2 separate regions of the Homo sapiens genome follow, and region 1 is linked to region 2. Evidence: fine-mapped expression QTL. Tissue or cell type: whole blood. Region 2 holds a variant in brackets; the other region holds the start of a gene. All regions are shown on one strand. Distances are between the middles of the regions.

What was found. PIP is the estimated chance that this variant, and not a neighbour inherited with it, causes the effect.
Region 1: it holds the start of AIFM2, and the variant in region 2 is fine-mapped to the expression of AIFM2 in whole blood (TOPMed, PIP above 0.99).

What each region holds. Positions count from the first base shown.
Region 1 is chr10:70,131,324-70,133,972 of GRCh38, forward strand. AIFM2 (AIF family member 2) reads right to left here and starts at 1,502. Exons shown (of 9, transcript NM_032797.6): 1 at 1,411-1,502. RefSeq lists an enhancer at 1,293-1,793 and silencers at 1,315-1,524, 1,357-1,676.
Region 2 is chr10:70,163,147-70,165,969 of GRCh38, forward strand. The region is part of intron 1 of SAR1A (secretion associated Ras related GTPase 1A); the gene reads right to left. It also overlaps the pseudogene CALM2P2. Among named protein-coding and RNA genes, the nearest start is that of SAR1A, 6.0 kb to the right of the region's middle. RefSeq lists an enhancer at 1,245-1,324. The variant C/A (reference allele first, on the strand shown) is at 1,210.

The DNA of each region.
Region 1 (2,649 bases), 32 kb before region 2:
CCATGGAGGTTTCCTCCACCTGCGGGACACAGCAGGATGGAGACGGTTGGGCGGCCTCCCTTCCTGGGACACTCCATGGCCAGCCCCTCAGGGACTACTTGAAGAACAGAACCCCCAAAAGACCAGTTTCTGAAAAGGGACTCAAAGTCTAAGGGAGGCAGCCTCCTTTTATCCCCAGGGGAGGGCAGCTCTGGGGCAGACAGGTTCATCTGGATGTCATATTCACTCCCGCACAGAAAACCTAGGCCAAGCAATTTGTCCATCCTCCTCAGAGCCAGTTTTGTGGTCCCCATGGTCTGCCCACCACCTGTACCTGGACGCTGGCTTCATTTGGCCACCAGACAAAAGTCAGGCTGGCCCTGGAGTCCACCGGCCTGCCCAGCCCATCACTTCTGGGCTAGGTAGTGCTAAGCCTGCCCAGCCCACCCTGGCTGGGGCTCAGTGCCCTCTTCTTGGTGACACACTGTGCTCCTTGGAGAACTCCTCTCTAGGTGCTGGGGTGAGGGCAGGTGTGATCTGAGATCCCGGGGCTCTCTGGCAGGTGCATGCACGCACACTGGAACCTGATACAGGCTTTTGAACACAGGTGCACAGTCCAGAAACCTGCAAGTCCCATCCCAAACTATATCTGACTCTCTGCCCTATGCCTGTCCTCCTACAGGATCATCAGCCCCCAAGAGACCTCACCACTCCCCATCCTCACCTTAAATTCCAGGGTCAAAAAGACTCTCCTTGTAGGGAAAGGTAGGGTGTGTTGATCAGGTGGTGTTGGAAGGAGAGCCCCAATATAGGCCACTAATTCAGTTCCAGGTGGACTGCACGCGTCCCATCAGAGTTAGTTTACTCACCGCTGGTCTTTGTCCCTGCAGCACCCAGGGCTTCGGGAAGGGAGAAGCAGACTTCCTAGTGCTGCACCCCCCAGCTCCCCCGAGCCTATGGGCACTGGGTTGACTCCAGTTTCTTTCCTCTTAGAGACTGAGGTTTCTCCCTTTCCTCTCACACCTGCTTCTGTCCGGACCGGCCGCTTCTACCCAGCGGACCCTCGGACGGTCCTCGCAAGATCCGGGTTACACCCGCCCCGTGTTCCCTCTTCCCCGGTTCGCCCTTCCCGGCCTAAGCCCATCTTCCTTAGGAAAACTTAGCAGGGATTTAGGGGCCAAACCAGGAGGGTGGAGTTTTCTTTGCCCTCGGCCAGGAGCACATCTCCCTGTTGCGTTTTTTGGGGGAGACAGAGAGGGGCGGGCCTGAGTCGAGTATCCCTCTCCTCGCAGCGCCACAACTGCGCGCACCGACCTCCCCACGCCAGACGCGGCGTGAGCCAGGCCTCTAATCCGCTCGCCCCTCTTCCGGGTCCCGGTCCCGCCCGGGGCGCCCGGGGTCTCGAGAGCCCGCCTGGCGGCGCGATCTCACCTGTCGGCCGCGCCCGCGCGCTCTCGCTCCGGCTCCCGCTCCCGCTCCCGCTCCCGCTTGGTCGTCTTCCCGAGTTACTGACCCGAGGCGCTCCCGGGCGGGGCGTGACTCAGCACTCGTGCTGGTCCCCGACCCCGCGGCAACGCCCCGGCCAGGCCCCGGAAACGGTCCTGGCACGCTGGGGCTGGTCTCCGAACGGCCCGCCGGACTAACCTTGACCCTGAGCGAACGGCCTTGAACTTTGAAACAAATGCTCCCATGGCCAGATGTCGCCTCTCCGGCTCCTGCCAGCACCCGCGCCCCAGTCCTGCCGAGCCATTCAGACTTGGTTTAAAGTGTCCTTTCAGCATACTTTAAAGCAAAAAAGAGAGAGAGAGAGAGAGAGAGAGAGAGAGAGAGAGAGAGAGAGAGAGAGAGAGAGAGAAGGAAGGAAGGAAAACAAGCATCCCCCTGTTCCTCTGATTTTCTCGAGGACACCTTTAAAGCCACTGGAACCTTGGAGAGTGGGGTTCCCCTCACACGTTGGGCGCACTGCCAACATCCTTCCTTCAGACATACACATAATAATTCCGCAAACCCTGTTGAGCTCCTACATTTGCCAGGCACTGTGCTAGGCGTTGGAGGGATAACTTGGAGAGAAAACTGACAAGGTTCCTGCTTTCACGGAGGCGACAGTCTGGGAAAAGACAGATATTAAACACACCACCAAAAAATACATGTATAGAGAAAACAAAAACCATGTATCACCAACTGCAGTAAGAAAGATTGGGCATGGCCAGGCACGGTGGCTCATGCCTACAGTCCCAGCACTTAGGGAGGCCAAGGCGGGAGGATCGTTTGAGCCCAGGAGTTGGAGACCAGCCTGGGCAACATAGCGAGACCTACAAAAATTAGCCGGGCTTGTTGGTGCACACCTGTAGTCCCAGCTTCTCGGGAAGCTGAGGTGGGAGGATTGCTTGAGCCCAGGAGTTTGAGGCTACAGTGAACCATGATCATTCCACTGCACTCCAGCCTAGGTGACTGTGAGATTCTGTCTCAAAAAAAAAATAATAATAATAATAATAATAAATGAAATGAAATGAAAAAATAAAAAAGAAAGACTGAGGGCAAAGGAAGGGTGCAAATACTTCTCTCCAAGGATGAGAAAGAGGTAGATTTAGGTAAAGAGGAAGGAAGTGTGGTCTGGATGTGCAAAGACCCACAGGCAGGACAATGACCTGGAAGGCAGTGTATTGCCAG
Region 2 (2,823 bases):
ATGCAAAGGAAAAGTTCTTGAAGAAAATTAAAAGTGCTACTCCAGCAAACCCATGAACGTCAAGAAAATGAAACAGCCTTATTGCTGATAAAAAATAATAATAAAATAAAAACACGAGGTAAAAAAGCAAGTGCTGATGTAGAAGCTGCAGCAAGATAACTGATGAAGGTGGGTGGCTACACTAAACAACACATTTTCAATGTAGGCAAAACAGCCTTCTATTTGAAAAGCCATCTAGGACTTTCATAGCTAGAGGGGAGATGTCATTGCTTGGCTTCAAAGCTTCAAGGGGCAAGCTGACTCTCTTGTTATGGGCTAATGCAAGGTGACTTTACGTTGAGGCCAATATTCATTTACCATTCTGAAAATCCTAGGACCCATACTCATTTACCATTCTGAAAATCCTAGGACCCATACTCATTTACCATTTTGAAAATCCTAGGGCCCTGAAGAATGACACTAAATCAGTCCAAGTGGAGCAAGTGAGCGAGCAGAGTGGTTGTGTGGTTGCGTCTCGGAAACCAGTAGCACTTGCAGCATGGCTGACCAACTGACTGAGGAGCAGATTGTAGAATTCAAAGAAGTTTTTTCACTATTTGACAAAGATGGTGATGGAACTATAACAACAAAGAAACTAGGAACTGTAATGAGGTCTCAGGCAGAATCCCACAGAAGCAGAGTTACAGGACATGATTAATGAAGTAGATGCTGATGGTAATGGCACAATTGACTTCCCTGAATTTCTGACAATGATGGCAAGAAAAATGAAAGACACAGACAGTGAAGAAGAAATTAGAGAAACATTCTGTGTGTTTGATAAGGATGGCAATGGCTATATTAGTGGTGTAGAACTTCACCATGTGATGACAAACCTTGGAGTGAAGTTAACAGATGAAGAAGTTGATTAAATGATCAGGGAAGCAGATCCTGATGGTGATGGTCAAGTAAACTATGAGTTTGTACAAATGATGACAGCATAATGAAGACCTTGTACAGAATGTGTTAAATTTCTTGCACAAAACTGTTTATTTGCCTTTTGTTTGTAACTTATCTGTAAAAGGCTTCTCCCTACTGTCAAAAAAAAATATGCATGTATGGTAATCAGGACTTCATTCCTCCATGTGTTCTTCCCTTACTGTCATTGCCCTGAAACCTTATTTTAGAAAACTGATGAAGTAACATGTTGCCTGTGGCTTACTCCGGATATAT[C/A]TAAGCCCTTCTGCACATCTAAACTTAGGTGGAGTTGGTCAAATAAGGGAACATCCGGGTTATGCCTTTTTTTAAAGTAGTTTTCTTTAGGAACTGTCAGCATGGTGTTGAAGTATGGAGTTGTAACTCTGTGTGGACTACGGACAGCCAACAATATGTACTTAAAAGTTGCACTACTGCAGAATGGGTGTATTATCCAGGTACTCCCAGGTACCTCACACACTGTTTTTTCTGTACTGCTGGTCCTGTACCAGAAACATTTTCTTTTACTGTTACTTGCTTTTTAAACTTTGTTTAGCCACTTAAAGAAAATGTGCTTATGGCACAATTTGCCTCAAATCCATTCCAAGTTGTGTATTTGTTTTCCAATTAAAAAAATTACAATTAAAAAAAGAATTATACTAAATCTACTCTGCCTACCACACATCTGTTTACAGCATGGTTTACTAAGTATTTTAAGCCCACTGTGAAGACCTATTGCTCAGAAAAAAAGATTTGAAGATATTACTGCTCATTGACAACGCACCTGGTCACCCATGGGCTTTGATGGAGGTGCAGAAAGAAGTTAATGTTGTTTTAATGTCTACTAACAACATCCATTCTGCTTCCCATGGATCAAGGAGTATTTTCGATTTGCCAGTCTTTCATTTAAGAAATATATTTCCTTTGGGAGGCCGAGGCGGGCGGATCACGAGGTCAGGAGATCGAGACCATCCCGGCTAAAACGGTGAAACCCCGTCTCTACTAAAAATACAAAAAATTAGCCGGGCGTAGTGGCGGGCGCCTGTGGTCCCAGCTACTTGGGAGGCTGAGGCAGGAGAATGGCGTGAACCCGGGAGGCGGAGCTTGCAGTGAGCCGAGATCCCGCCACTGCACTCCAGCCTGGGCGACAGAGCGAGACTCCGTCTCAAAAAAAAAAAAAAAAAAAAAGAAATATATTTCACAAAGCCATCAATGCCATAGACTGATTTCTCTGCTGGATCTGGGCAAAGTAAACTGAAAACCTCCTGGAAAGGAGTCACCATTCTAGGTACCAGTAAGAACAGTTATGATTCACGGGAAGAGGTCAAAATATCAATATTAACAGGAGTTAGGAAGACAGTGATTCCAACCCTCGTGGAAAACTTTGAGGGGTTCGAGACTTTGGAGGAAGAAGTAACCTTAGATGTGGTAGAAACAGCAAGAGAACTAGAATTAGAAGTAGAGCCTGAAGATGTGACAACTGCTGTAATTTCATGATCAAACTAATGGATAAAGAGATGCTTCTTATGGATAAGCAAAAAAAGTGGTTTTTTTGAGATGGAATCTAGTCCTGGTGAAGATGCTATGAATACTGTTGAAATGACACCAACAATTTAGAAAATTACAAAAACTTACTTGAGTTTACATAAACTTACTTGAGCAGCAGCAGGGTTTAAGAGGACTGGTTCCAATTTTGAAATAAATTCTGCTTTGGGTAAAATGCTATCAAACAGCATTGCATGCTACAGAGAAATCTTTCTTGAAAACAAGCATTAACTGATGCAACAAACTTCCTTGTTGTCTTATTTTAAGAAACTGCCACAGCCATCCCAACCTTTAGCAATCATCAACCTGATCAGTCAACAGCTATCA